Linked DNA regions of Homo sapiens: region 2 is linked to region 1. The links come from fine-mapping of genetic effects on gene expression. Tissue or cell type: tibial artery. Region 1 holds a variant in brackets; the other region holds the start of a gene. All regions are shown on one strand. Distances are from middle to middle.

The links. PIP is the estimated chance that this variant, and not a neighbour inherited with it, causes the effect.
Region 2: it holds the start of PART1, and the variant in region 1 is fine-mapped to the expression of PART1 in tibial artery (GTEx, PIP above 0.99). The same link has a PIP of 0.9 or more in sun-exposed skin.

The regions. Positions count from the first base shown.
Region 1 is chr5:60,193,624-60,201,891 of GRCh38, forward strand. It overlaps a transcript of PDE4D not described here. Among named protein-coding and RNA genes, the nearest start is that of PART1, 290 kb to the right of the region's middle. The variant A/G (reference allele first, on the strand shown) is at 4,598.
Region 2 is chr5:60,483,562-60,491,561 of GRCh38, forward strand. It overlaps PART1 (prostate androgen-regulated transcript 1), which reads left to right and starts at 4,152. Exons shown (of 4, transcript NR_024617.1): 1 at 4,152-4,862. It also overlaps a transcript of PDE4D not described here.

The sequences.
Region 1 (8,268 bases):
ATTGCGCCACTGCACTCCAGCCTGGGCGACAGCGAGACTCCGTCTCAAAAAAAAAAAAAAAAAAAAAAAGAAAGAAAAAGAAAAAAAGAAAAGAAAAAGCTGTCACAATTTTCAAGAAAAATATTTTTAAAATAGTAAGTTAACAATAGGGCTCTTTACCTAGGTTTAGTTTCAACCAGCTTTGTACCCTTTCAACTATTTGAGCCTCTTAATGTCTCTCTGAACATCCCATCAAAAATTATGCCTCAGCTTCCTTCCTCACCCAGCTTACTCTCCCTTACCTCCTTTCCCGCTGTCTGAGAGGATGAGTGAGGTGTTTCTCCTCCTATGAGGAGTCCTGTCTTCTACCTATGCCTGTCTTTCCTCCTCCATCTGCTCTAGTTCTAACTGGTTCTCTCCCCTCAAGATCTAAATACTCTCTTGAGTCTCTCCTCTTGTAAAAAGTAAATTATCCTTATAACCCTATGTTCTCCCTCCTCAAGATATCATTCTCTTTCTCTTCAAAATCAAGCTATTTGAAAAAAAATGTCTGTTATCTTTCTTTACCTCCTTATTCCCACTGTCTACCCCTCAACCCAATGCAAGCAAGTTTTACTCCTTCCACACTTAAACTACTTTCTCTAAAGATCCTAGACCTCCATATCACAAAATCTAACAAACTTTTCACAAATTATCTGACTAGAACTCTCTGCTATCACATTGTTTTGCCTTCTAGAAAATCCCTCTTCCTCTGTCTTCTGCTGGTTCTCCAACTGACTGCTCAACTTCTTGCTACTTCACGGGGTCTTCTTATTTTGTCTACATCTAAAATATGAGTGATACCATTGATATTATTTTTATCAGCATTTCCCAAACATGACTGCATATCAAAATTAGCTAGGGAATGCCATAAAATGCAGATGGCTGACTCTCCACCAATGAATCAGAACTTTGAGGACAGGTACTCAGGAATCTACTTTTGACCAATACCCCAGATAATAATCATGAAGGGTGAAGAGCACCACCACTTTTGATTGGCACTTGGGAGCCTCTGTTCTAGATTATATTTCTTGATAATCCACTAGTTTTCATTGTTTTAGCTGCCATGTGTATACTTTAACCCGCCACATACATATCTCATACACTAAGAGGGGTCTACCACTACCACAGTCTTCCAGAGTTTTATCTACACAAATTCAGGCACTTTCTAATGTTCTTCTTGTCACCAATACTGCCTACTTCAAGTCCACCTTAAAATCTATCAATAGCTGCCTATCCCCTACAGCATAAAGTCCAAATAAATCTCCTTTACATGGTAAGTAGGAGTCCCCCTGTCTGCTGTTTGCAGTATCATCCCTTGACCTCCCACACAGCATTGTTTCACTCACTTGCTATAGGGAACCACTTGTAATTCTTTGCATACGCCATACGGTTTCTCACCTCCCTGTCCTCTGTCTTGGACTTTTTCCCCTCTTCCTTTACCCCATAGCCATGCTCTTCTTCCTTTGTTTGGGAATGTCTTGCTTCAAGACTCAACTCAGGTGTCATCTCCTCCTGGAAGAGTTTCCTGATTCTCCCAATATCCCAGCCCCATTCCCACTGCCAGCCTGACCTAACATCCCTTTTTACTCCCTCCATAATGCCTCCTGAATGCCTCCCACAGTATATTTGTCAAATTACATCAAAATGATCTGTTTAATTGTACGTCACTGCCAACCTTGCCCTGGACTCTAAGTCCCTTGAGGTTAGAAAACATTTCATGTTTATATATACAATTACAACATAAAATATGCTTAGTAAATGTTTACTGATTTCTGCTGAATTGAACAGAGAATTAAGAGAAGAAAAGCACATTTTGTCTCCAGACTGAAAAGAATCAAATCATTTCCTTTGTAGTTTATGTCCATATAAAACCATCATTCTATTCCCTTCTCTTCCTCCAAAATGATAACAGCAATCTATTTTACTAATTCATTCACCAGACATTTACTGGACACTTGTGGTATGCAATGAACTGTGCTCTAGGGTCCAGGGATGCAGAGATAAATACGATAAAAATCTCTCTCCACGTGGAACTCTCATTCTAGTGGGGGACAGAGACAAATAACACAATACACTAAGTGCTCTGACAGAATCTCAGAATAGCTGGTGTGGGACCCCCGAGGAGGCAGTAAATGATTCATACACCTAATGGCTTCAAAGCCTGTTCCGAGTTATTCTGCTCTTGTGAACACTTCTCTTTAAGTTATTCAAATGCCATTTCATATACTGATGTTTTTCCCCACGTAGAGGGAAAGGAACATGAAAGTAGACATTGACGGTTCTTTTCATCTCCTTTGTGCATCTAGTCAGAACTTTGTCCCTGTAGAAAAGGCATCTGTAGAATTCCACACCTATAAAGTATGCTGTAAATGACCATTGAATGAATAATATGCAGGCGGTCACACTTACATAGAGAACACAAGCCACTTTTTATTTCAGCACAAATTTATTACAAAATAAATGACATTTTTGGAAATACAAGCATATCATTTGGCTCCCCAAATAGCCTAATTCTTCACTCCCAAGGGTATGGAAATGCCAGAGTACCCACTCTTTCAACGCTCACCTTGACCAGTATTTCAAAATGGCACAGTTCAGTCATTGAGCTATAAATTAATTACTTTTCTCCCAGGATTCCATTTCCTCCCACCTAAAATAATTTCAGCTCTCTAAAACACAACTCTCCACCCTAATTAAAAGTCCAGGGACCTTCTCATTAATATTGCATAAATGTAGGGTCTGTTGCTTGATAATACTTTGCTTTGGTGTTAGCCTCCTGCAGCAGAGAAGAAAGTTACAACAAAAGCTTCCTTTTAGCAACTTTCCTAGCCATACACCCTCCCACTGCCTCATTATGGTGCCCTTCCTGCCTGGGCAGTGGGAGGTGTCTAGAGCAGTTTCGTCCTGTGAATCATAGGACAGCATGGTGCGTAGTTTGCTGGCCTGAGGCCCAATATGGAATGAGCCTCTGAGATGTGTCATCATCAGCTTGACTATAACAGATCCATTGAGAGCCTCAGGATAAAATTCCCTGAGTCATCATGAGGAAAATAAAATGATAGCAAGATGATCCCCATAAAATCTCTGGTGCAAGCTGCTTACTAGCTACAAAGAAAAGTGGAGTTCATCAAGGCACTGAGCCTTTTATTCTTTTTAATGTTTTTTTGTCCCATATTAAAGTAAAATCTGCTGTCTGAATACTTGTAAATTTGAGAAGTATTAGAAATGGCATTTCACTGAGGGTTGTAGAATGTATGTAGAGACTGCTGTCTACAAATCATTAATTACAAATCATAGTCTGTACTTTGTATCATGAGACCAACTAGGTTCTAAAACATGAACCATTCTGCCTCTCTGGCAAAAACAAGATAGGCAGATAGATAGATAGATAGATAGATAGATAGATAGATAGATAGATAGATAGATAGACAGTTAGATAGATAGATAGATAGATAGATAGATAGATAGATAGATAGATAGATTAGATAGGAATAGGTAGCTGAAAGAGAGAAGGAAAGGTGAGAGTGAGGAATAGTGAGAAATTGAGAAAGACAATCCATGTTATAGATCCTGCATTATATTATGTATAGCTTTCTCAATCTGAGCTATAGAACCAAAATTATTATCTCTGGGTAATTATGAGCCAGATACCTTCAGAAGTTCCTTTTTAAAATCAACATACCCTTTGGTTCTTTAGTTGCTTTTATTTAGTCAATCAGCCGTGAATTCTAATTTTTATTTTCCCACAAAATCTACTGTGAATAGCCTCCTTAAGAAAAATACAAGTGAATTATTTTAAGACCTAATAATACTCTTGGTTTAGATTATTTGGGACACAATGAGAATTTAAATAAAATAAACCAGAGTTAAAGTAAAGATCAAAGAGACAAAAGGGAATTGGTAGAGCATCATGCAGATCTTACTTGAGGTAGGTACATAAAAGTTGTTCTAATGCGGCTTCAGTAGAACAACTTTTATCCTAGCACCAAGTAAGTCAGGAAGTACCCTCAAGCTATCATTTCTCCCTAATTAACAAGTGCTACCCAAGGAGTCATTGCCGGCAGACTGTACAAACAGAAGAAAAGCAAGGCATAAAATGAAGAAACTCAATGTTAATTAAAAGAAACATAAACAAGGAAAATAACAGAGCCAAGAAACCAAAGACTATGAGTAGAAACCAAAACCTCTCAATCCTCTGTCTCTTAGGAAGCAACAGCCCGTTAGCGCCCTTGCAAGGGAATGAGCCCACTGTGGTGGAGTCATTAACACCCACAAATTGAAAACTGTACATGCCCCTTAGTTTGGAGCAAATTTCTAACGAATGATAAAGAGCAGTTGGCTTTTTTACATTAAAAATAAAATAACAGCAGAAAAAAAAGTGGGCAAAGAATTTGGATTTTTTTTTTTTTTGCTTTTCAAGAGTTTTACTGTTTTACCAATTTATTATAGACATTAAAAATAACAAGCAACAAAATCAAGATCTAGTACAGCATAAATTATAATATTTTTCTGCCATTAGAGAATCATTTTCAATATACTCTTTTTCTTTCATATTCAGTGTATATGTGGTAGATAA[A/G]ATAAACTCCTTCAATGTAGTGCCTTGTTTTAATTCCTTTGTTCTTAAGGAGATATTTTTTTCTCACTCCATTATAAAACAAGAACTCTAAGATATCCCCTAAACAAAAGTAATTTATGTAAGAGATGTTGATTCGGAGAGATGAAGAGACAAAACTAATCAGTGGAATATTAGGTTTTGGAATCAGTCATATTCCATATTCCAAAGAATTTGGAGTCAAATTCTGTTTTGGCCATTTTCTAATTTTATGGCCATGAGAAACTACTTAACCCTTTTGCATGTCAATGTCAGGATCAAGATAAATGTAGATACTGAAACTCACATTTCAAGGCTACTACTGTGTAAACTAAATGATGAACTTACATGTCAGCGTATATAACCACTGTACCTAACTCTAAGAAGGCACTCCTTAAATGTAAGCTTTTTATTACTTTGTCCCCTGATATGTCTTTAACACCAAGAGCCTCAGCGAGCTCTAAGAATCAAGGTAAATTACAGTTAGAATTAATCCTTCGAAATGTAGGATAGGGGAGCTCAAAATTTATTGTATAACCTGGTGGCATAGTGAGAAGCCTTGAATTTGGCTTATCCTTCTCATCTTAGAGTAAGCAAGCATTGGGTTTTTTAGGAGATCTGGATTTTACTAACCCTGCAAAAATGTTTCATTAAAAATGCACTCTTCCCAGGATTGTTAGTCTGCTGTTACACTGCCACAAAATGAGAGAAGCCTGTACTAATTCTAGAGACACTCAATTATAGTACAAGATTTAACCTTCAGTTTCTGTGTCCAAGCCTAGGCTTTTCCACAGCCATCAGTGAGGTCAAATGAACATTTCAAACCTTATACTCAGAGATTTGAAATCCTTTTCATTTTGATGCTTCCTTCTTCAAGGACTCATTCAATGAGCCTCAAAATGAACCCATCACTTTTCCAGCAAGATGTGAATTGTGACACCAACTCTTAACTGCTAGGACAAAGCAGATACCAAGCTTCATAGCAAATTCAAAGGCTCTGAATATAGAGAAAGAACAAGTGGAGGACCTGACACACAGAAGAAAATTCACCTCAGTTCACCAAGATCTCCTGATTATCCAAATAGCTGTTCAGAGCTTGGTATCTGTAACTGGAGCCTGTGCTGAATCATTGCCATTTGTGTGGCACCCATCTGGCACCTGGAATTAGATTTTGCTCTCTCTTCATTCAAAATGGTGATAAGGGATGAATGAGGGATTGCACAACAGCAAAATCTCATAAATATTATTGTGCTAATAGATGAATTTCTTAGTGAAAATGGAAAATGGCAATTTCTTTTCTAAGGATCGGCTACGCTTTAATCATCTCAGGGCTTATTAGTTCAATTTTTCAGAAGGACAATGATGCTTGAGAAGCTAGAATTTTCTCTTTAAAAATCTCTTTAATTCACTAAAGAAGTAATATAAGCGAAAGCATATAAATGAAAAAGTAAAACCAAATTTAATATCTGAAGTAGAAGTAGCTGAATGAAAGAAACTTAGTATTAAAATGGTCTTTCAGTTTCTAACTCATCCAAACTCTGCTAAGATGAAGATGATGTCACAACATATCATACCATACCAAGATATTGTTACAGATTATCTCATTCATAAATATTACTAAGGAAAGAGACCCCATATTCCCAGCAAGAGTTGGGTGCCAACCTAGTTGGCAAAAACAGATGTAATTCCTATTCTTTGCTTATGGCAAGAGAACAGAATTAGAGTATTAAACCAGCTTCAGATACTTCAAAGTGGAGGCAGGAGAGACAGACACCAAATCATCCCAAGAGCACTCAATTGGAAAATGGCACATGAACCAAAGTCCACTTCACTCCTAACACTATGAGAACAATCATAATTTTATATTATAATTACAAACGCTTATGGGGCATTTGCTATGTACCAGGAAATGTTCTAATCACTTAAAATATATTAACTAATTCAATTCCCACAAAATTCTGTAAAATAGTTGTCATTTTAATATCCAATTTGCAGATGAAGAAATCAAGGTAGAGAAAGCTGAAATAATCATCACAAGATTACATGGCTAGTAAGTATAAATCCAGGATATGTATGTTTTCTCCTGCACCCAGAAGTTATTTTATGTTTTAGGGAAGACATCAGAAGTCATTGAAGAGGAGAAAAACAGTTCTGATATATAGCTCAACTTTCAATTATTTACATACTGACCCAAAAGAAACTATTCTAATCCCGAAATGAATTAAAGTTTGGGTGTTTTTCCCCACCTCATTAATGGGAACAATGGCTCTACAGCTAGAATCTAGAGCTAGAAAATTTGCTATAAGAAATAAAAGCCACATTCTTTAACCATAGCTGAATTTCAGTCAGTACATTTGACTCTACTGTAGATGACAGTCAATGCAAGTATGCCAGACTTCCAGTATAAGATAGAAATTTCAGTCCATTTATTTCACTCTCCTTGCTCCCAAATTCACTTAGAAGCAAGAAACAATAGAAAACTCATGGAGAAATGCCATCAATTTAGGGAATTTCTGTAAGACAGTACACAAGATCCATATTATTCATGAGTTTACACACTCTGGAATGTGAGAAGAGTTTAATAGTAAGAAACCTATTAATATAACTCATTAAAGTAATAGACCAAGGGAAAAGAAAAACACATAATCCTTTCTAAGAATGTCTAAAATGCATGTGAAAACACTTAACACTGAATCCTGATTTTTAAGATTTAATAAAACGGGACCAAAAGTCATATCTTTCTCAAATAGCCAATGTCTTGCTTAGTGATCAAAGATGGAAGACATTCTCATTAAAGCCGGGAGCAGCAGAAAAATACCCACTACCACCACCCTCAGTTGCCAATGTGTTTAAAGTGCTAGCTAATAAATCCCATAAAGGAGAATCATAAATATTGAAAATGATGAGGCAAGTCTATCACTATAGGAAGACCACAGGATTCTCTACTTGAAAAACCTCCCAAAAAGAAAGCAAAAAAAAAAAAAAAGAAAGAAATAGAGTTTTTTTTTTTAAGTTAAGTAACTGGGTTGATTACAAATCAAGGTTTTCCTATATACCAACAATTTGAAATATAATTGCTACACACACACACACAACTTAAAAACTAGGCATGAAGAAGCTTTCTTAGGTTTTGTATGCTTGTTTGTTTAGAAAGGTAGAGGGACTATATAAAGAAATGAACTACAAAACTTCATTGAAGTACATAAAAGGAGACTTTTTTTAAAAAACATGTTTCTAAAGAGGAAAGCATGTGCAATTCCAATTACATGCAGTTCCGATCTGAATTATTTACCTAATTATTTATATAAAGTTTTGTTATCGTCACTTTCACACATACATGCAAGCAGAGTAAATAGGATCATGAGTCCCACATTCCCATCACACAGCTACAACAATATCAACATTTTTCCAAACTTGCTTTATTTACCCCCAATTGCAATTCCCCCTTGTCTCCCATTGCTTGTGTATTTTAAGACCTCATATAAATAAATGTAAATATATCCAGAACATTTCTGAAAGACAATATTAACAAAGGAGTAATTTCTGTAATAATTATAATAATTGATACTGGCACCAGACTAGAAGAGAATCCAATAGAACTGAACAGAAACACCAAAGAGATACAACTATACATAAGAATTTGATATTTGACAGAG
Region 2 (8,000 bases), 290 kb after region 1:
TGATTTTTGCTGAATAAATAAATTCCTATTGAGAAGTTAAAAAAAAACATTATTTCACTATAGTTTTAAATTACTGAAGAAGTGTTCTTATCCAATCACCAAAGGCACAAAAAAGTCAGGTCAATGGCCCTAGATCCAGTTTTCAAATACTACTACAAATGAAATTGTTTCATTCCTAGAAAGTTCTCTCATGAATTTCTGGGTGAGCTGTGTGAGATAAAAGTGGAGATAATCCACTCCATTTTAATACGTTTTACTTATTGTGATTCCTCTATAATTTCTTCTATCTTTTAAAAAGGGTTCAACAGGTGAAATGGGGAACTGCTTTAGCATAACCAATATTGCTGTTAGGAAATCATCAAACTATAACAGCAGTGAGCTGAAACCACTGAAATGTAGGATGCAGCTATGGACATTATTCCAAAAAGCATAATGATTTTCTGAAGCAGAACCACCTAAAAATTTGGGATTCAAAACTGCTAATTGATCTTTCAAATCATTCAGAAGGTCATTTTGACCATTCATTGCATCCCTGAGATGAAAAGACTACTAGGAATAAGCATCACCTCAAAACCTACATAATTATTTCCTTAGCAAAATTTAATAATGAGAGTCAAGACAGGAATTAAAAAAAAAAAAAAAACCCAAGAACATCTGTCAGTCTAAATTTCCTAACCCACTTTTTCCTGTGAGGAAAATATGTCCTCTAAAACTTCGTCATTGGCAGCTCCAAATGTAGGCTGTGAAGGAATGCTTATCTAACTATTGGCTTAGTGCTGTATCTAAGTGGAAAGAAAGCTTAACCAACAGGAACATTCATCCTGTTTGAGGGAAGCAAACATAGCTTAGAAAGTTAGTCAATCCAATCAATAAGAAATATATCTGATACTTTCCATTTTAAAAATTGAAAATTTGCAAAGAATTTTTATTAATATACTGATAATTGTTGCAATATGTAATATTTATACGACTATGGCACATGGAAGTTTACTAAATATGTTTTCACATACAATGCCACATTCGTTTATCACAGTAAACCTATCGGTATTTTTAATACTCAAGTAATAGATGGATCAGCATTGAAGCTCCAATGGGAGCTTCAATGGGAGCTTAAACAAATGTAAGGTCCAAAAGCCTTCATAACATTAGGATCAAACAGTGAAGATTTTCTTTGCTTCAAAAGTTTTGTCCATTACTGGGAATATGTTTTAGAAGTAAAGAGTCCTAACCCTAGCGTGATGAGCTACAGTCATAATAATAGTGTACATGTACAGCACATTACAAATTACACATTACAATGTTCTTTTGACAAGCACTTTCTCATTGTGATGTGGATATTCACCAATCTAGTAAAATACCAGAACATATATCATTATTTTCATTTTAAAGACATAGAGACTGAGGCTTAGAAAACGTTTCATGGCCTGAGCGTGGTCCCGTTGACTCTAAGATTAATTCACCAAAATGTTCTGCTTCTTGAAATCAGATATTAGAGGAACACAGTTATAGTTAAGTTGGAATCACTGATTGTCTTGAAATTAAATGAAAGCTCCTCTTCTACCAGTGTCTAGCTCCACAAAAGGAGGGACTTAAAGAAATGTAGGGCATTTAACTCCTTGGTGGTGTGCTTTTTCTGTGGGAAGAGGGACATTTGTTTCATTCGTTTTGTTCTGCTTTTTTAAAAACATGCTCAAGGTAGACAGCAACTCTTTTGAAAACACAAAGTAAGAATTATTAAATTCTTGGGCAAGCTGAAGAAATCAAATCAGTCCTATATATAACACAGGAAAAACGTTGGAGGGAAGAGCAAATTTTTCCAAAAACAAAATTCACCAAAAAAAAAAAAACCCACTGGAAAATGTAATTCAATCAAAAAATTATATTTTCTTCAATTTGGATTTATGTCTTTGCTTCAGTAGGTAGTGTTAATAGTCTCCAAATGCCAGTGTGTATTCATGAACACTTAGCAAGTTCATGATGTGATACATTCCTTTTTGGATACATCTTTCGTCAAATCCATCTGTCTATGGCAGATATGCATAGTTTTACAGAACCTTATCTGCAAAAGAACTTCCACAGTTAGACAAAAATGGTTTTAGAAAATTGAGAGGAGTGGATAGAAGAAAGATCAACTATTGCTGTTTGGGAGATTTTTTTTGCTTTCCCCACCATGCCTTGCCCCCAGCCCACTGTCCACTGGGCACCTGGCACCTCTAGACTCCATTTCTTAAAGCTCTGTTCTTTCACAAGTAAGAGATATGACTCTGGCATCTCAGGAAGAACTGAAGTGATGGAAGTCCCAGAGGAAAGTACCGATGCAAGACGTAAATACTCCTAGTATACACCCACCAGAATTTCCTTGAGCCTTGGTTTTAAACATCCTCTGAATTATATAGGCAGCTGATTAATGTTTGATAATTAAGCATTTTTATGTGATTCATCTCAATAAGAGCCCAAGCAAGGTAATGTAAACAATGAAGGCATAAAAAGGTGGAAGGAGATGTGAATACTACACCAAGTGGGCCACATGGACCTAAGGAAAAAGAGGAGCTGAGTTGAAGTCAGGAGCTGATTCAGATAAAGCAGCTTCAACTCTACTACTTCTTACTCTTAGATGGGCTCCAGACCACCTTGAGGGATGGGATTATATTTATTTTATAGATGCACTCCTTTCTCCCACTAATACAGTCAGTTAGGAATGTATAGCTAAGAATGAGCCAACCATTACTATTCGTGTCTATGGCTACAGAAACTCAATAAATCAACTCACTATTCTGGGTCAATAAATGAACTCATTATACTGTTTCTTCATGAAGTAAATGTGTTTCTAAAGGAATGTATTAAAATTACATTTTTAAAAATCTATGTATTTTGCATATATTTGATTGATACAGAAAAGGAGTCTACGTTGGCTACTTTTCTTTCTTTCTACAAACTTCATTCATTGGTGTGATCTGAAAGGGGATAATATTTCAGAAAGCAAAAATATTTTTAACAACAAAACTTTGTATTTCCAGTGTGATCTAAACACAAAATTATGCAAAACACAACTAATATTTCTCTCCTACTGGCTAAATCATGCCAGTTGTTTAGGTGCAATCAAAAATAAGCCACTAATGTTATTTTTATAGGAATTGGCAAGTAATTGCCAACTATAGCTATTAAAAGTTTATATTTGCCACAGGAGCCTGTGATTTTAAATACTGTTCAAATGATTTATGCTTGAGAGTTATACATAGCACAAATACATACATTTGTATCTACAGGTCTAAAGAGGAAAAATTAGACAAAAAGCAACTTGAAAAGGAACCCCTTTATTTTTAATGACCTACCTTTGTGCTGTATTGAGAAAAAGTATAAAAATTATTTGGGAGGAAGAAAAATATTTCTAAGCACTAATTTCATAGGCAAAAGCCCTATTATTTTTTATGATAGGCTAGGGGAAATCAATAATGATTTAAAAGCAAACAGTAAACTGCTCACATTTACCAGTCTATACTCAGTATTAATTCTACCCTGCAGTGTATGCTATAGAAGGTAATGAAATGCTGATGTTTTCTGGTTTTCCACTTCAATCTGCTCCAGCTTTATCCTAAACCTTGTCAGCAACAGAAGTTACCCCCCAGCAATCATACAAACCTAATAACGGCTTCCCTGGCTTAATTTGATCTGCTCCAATCACAAATTCCAATCCACATACTTTCTTCTGTTATGGTTGTGTCTGTATGTGTTTAATGTACTTTTTATAAGGCTTTTTTACAACAAGCGCATGGTTTTTCATTCAGCCCTCTACCACATAAACAGAACCACTGAAGAGCATTTTTGTTCATATAAAAATGTTTTAGTTATTCATAGTGTATGTCTTCAATTGGCTGCAGATTACAGTGAACAAAAGTATTGCTGCCATCATTTTACATTTCTCCTGTTACTGTGCCCTATCTGCTGTGTACCCCTGTCCCCAAAGCATTTATTATAATATTTGCTGCTTGCTCTCAGTTTTGGACTGAGATGCTTGGGGGTGGGAAAACTTAAAACTTGCCTGACTCAAGTGCTCTCTAAGCTTTGATCCCAGCATCCTGCTTTAACCTGCTCCTGTTGGACCTCTGCCACTTTACTGACCCCATAAAACAAACAGAGCTAGCAAATGCATCAAACAGCCTCCTTCAAAATGCAGCTTGACTGTGATTCATGGCACAAAGCTGGAATAACCCTGCCAGTTCTTAGAAGCTTTAAGATTCATCGTCTTGAACTTGATACACATAGTATAGCACCTTAAAAACGAATCATCTGCTAGTTCAGTATTTTCTACTTACAATCACTCCCTCCCAGGGCATGTAATTAATTTACTGAGCTTAAAAAAAAAATATCAGGATTACTCACACAGTCTTGAAGATGCAATGTCAGCTATTTAGGACAGAAACATCCAAGGCCGTGTCAGAACTCAATTACGACTACATATGCATTAAGGCAGGAACTGGCAGGCCTCAGGGTACGCCAACTATAGGACTCGTGCTTCTCGTACGCTGGGCTATAATCTATGAAACTGAGCTCCAGAGCCAGCCAATCACTTAGCTCCTCATAACAAGTCTAACTGGCTCTGGAAAGCTGAAAGGGCTGCACTGGAACAACACAGATGAGATATTCTACACATTAATCTACTTATCTGGAATCACTTTGCCTCTAAAGGCCAGAGAAAAATCACAGCTTCCTTGTCGGAGGGGAAAAGGACAGGTGATCTGGGGAAAACGCAGCTACACCTGGAGCAAGGTCTCTTCCCGGCTTGGCAATCTCAGCTGTGCCGGCGCTACGGGACCCGAGCCGTCCCAGAAACCAAAGGGCAGGCACGGCAGCAAACGCCTGAGGTAATTTTCATCTTTCTTTTTATTTTTAGTAGAATAATGCAGACTGAAAGTGATAAGCATAAAGTCGCTGAGGCAACTAGATATGCTTCGATTTTATTTTACATTTTCCTATTCTAATCGTGTGCAGGATCATTTGTTATGAAGTCTGAGGAGGGGGAGAATTAATGTACCTGAAATAAACTTGAAACTAAAACGATCATTTGTGGAGGAAAATACAGGATTTTCCAGAACAGTTTCAGAGCTACCTTTGCAGATGGGTAGGCTTTTCACCCACCCACAGAAAGAAGAGTCAACGGGGCTGAGACAGGACAGGGATGGGTTTCAGGAGCACAATTAAAAGTTTTTCGTATCTTAAAGAAAATATCTATGTTCAGAGAGAAAATTGAGAAGATAAGTTACTGCCCAGTTCCTCTGGTCTTTGACACTTAGACCACATAAGAATGTTCCATGGTAGAAGGGTTGGGACAGAGAATCTTAGGAATCCTAAGAGAGAATCAATACTGCTCCCCTACCCCAGGTTTTTCTTGTTTTCTTTACAATAGTATCCTTATTTCCCATTACATTTTAGTGTTAGTCATACCAATTACTTGTTACACCATACTTCTACATTTGCAGTTATTAAAGGATCTGCAGAAAACATTTTAAAGTCAAAATGATTATAGAGGCAACTAAAATAAGAAAGCAAAAAAATATGTGAAACTGACATACACATAACCAGAACACCACACCCCTTAGATACTTAATGTACTTAACCCAATGACAAATCCTTCCAAATCCTTAGCAAATTGTCTGTTTCTTTAATACATTTTGTAGCAAGTGTAACATTAGCAACGAAGAAAAACTTTGGCAATAAACTTGTACATAACTAAATCAATCCTTATGCTTTCATAGTGACGATAGAATATACATAATATTTTATTTGTTTTGTTGGACTTATAAAATCCTAAGGCAAGAAGCTGAGAAGAAAATTTTGCTTTATTTAGTGGTGACATATAAACAGTAACAGAAGAGACATTTATGCACTTTTTTTGGCTGTAGATAATTGACTGAATTCAACTTGAGATTTGACACCAGAAAGAAAAACGTTGCAATAGACAGAAAACAGAAAAAGTAATCCATTGGCAATTTCCCCCCAGGGTTTGTTCTTTGAATTGTCCAATCTGTGACTAGCCAGGGAAGAATATTTCTGCTCTGTTTAAATAGTTTTTATTTAATTAAACCTTTGTTTATTTGACAGTGCTGCTGCCTTCGGTGACTATATGAGAATGGAAACTTCTAAGGAAGCCAGGTTGTTAGAATTGTTACCCCCTTTACTCAGAGATAACATAGATTATCCAGGCTGAGATGGAAAACAAGCCCTTTATTGAATTTTCAACACAGACTCCCTGCTTCTCATCTCCTTAATAAAATTTCATTAAAATCCCCTTGAACTCCCATGTTCAAATCTCCATTTGTTGACAGACAAAGCCAACAATACTCTAAACTGAGGCCTGCAAGTCATTTCATTTGTATTTTTGTCCAGAAATTTCCCATAGGAAGACTTCACCTCCTACAACTCCGAAGAAAACCCTTACTGTCCAAGACCGTCACCAGCAACCATCCGCAGTCATTCAAGTGGAAGCTTTCACAGCTTTTGTACATTCTCTGTGTCAATATACAACTGAGTTACAGACTGTCCCCTGGCTCCCTGACCCTTACAAACACTAAAAGTTTTGTTTGACTCAACTTCAAGCTGCTCATCTGTTAGTAAGTGATGTTCACTCCAGAACACATTCATGATGAGAACTTTCTAAAAGACCAGCACTGCTCTTCCCCTCCTATAATCATAATAATCATGATAACCTGAAACATGTTACTGGGACTCGACATTTTTCTGGGGATTGAAATCTTTAGTCCTTGGAGCTGTCACATAGCAGGGGCAACCTCACACTGAAACAAAGGAAGTGATGTCCCATTATTATCCACCCTGAGCCACCATAATATGCTGTTTACATTTATTTTCTTCAGCCTGTGCAAAACAAAGCAATGGAAAAGGAAACTAAAAAATATACATACTAGTACCATTATCTTCTTTTGCCTAAAATTACTAATGCACCACGTCAGTCTGCTTCCTTCAGGCATCATTCTCAATTCATCAGGACTTGTATTAGCAGGTTCTGGCTAGAGAGACTATCTCCTGTCATCACGATCAATTAATGTTTTCTGGTGATCACATCAGGCCCTATCTAAGAAGCTCATGGTATACAAGGGTCACCCAAATAGCTGAGTGCAGTCCTTGCTCATATTTCCTTCATCTTAACCCCGCAAACAAGAATTAAGATGATCCCAATAAAAGAAAAATTGCTCAGGAAACTGAACCTTTTTCTGAACCAAGCACTGTCAGCAAATCTCAGGTATTAGAGCAACTATGGTTGATTGAAAAGTGTCTCAAAATCTGGGCCAAGAATGATTGCTAGGTCCATAAGCTAATTTGTCTGGCCTTGCCATTTACGTAAGCCAAAGAAAGTCACTCATGAGTAAACTATAGAAAACGTTCAGACCCATCCTGTTAGTATGTCAAATCAACTAAGACTGGCAGGGTATTAACTCCATTCCAGGTGACATGGATAAAGAGCCCCATTATTTTCACAGTGCCAGCCTCTACCTAAGGAAACCCTAGACCTTGGAACCAGTTTCCTGGTAGGGAACTGCTGACAGTTTCAATGCTGACAGTTGGAGCCAATGCCTCATAGTGTAAACTGAAAGAAAAATAGTTGCTTTTTAAAATGTCAGCAAGAAGGCCTGCCTCATCTTAACAAAGCAAAAAAAAATGCTTTAATTCAAATTAAAAATCATGATACTAGAGATGGGAGTCTGTGGTCACTATAAAGATAAAGTTCATGTTCTTGGTTCAGATAACAAAACACTTTATCTGGATAAATGGACCTCAAAATTTGCTCTTGGCACATGGGGGAAATTTTTTGTTGTATTTTGTTGTTGTTGTTGTTCTTGTTGTTATTGTTTAAATTAATCTTCCTAAGGCCATGAATATGAAATCATATTAATAATGCATGTGACAAAATTCTAAAATATATTACACTTAAAATTAGCATAAACCATCAACTTTTAGTACTCATATATTGCAGTCAAAACTCTTCT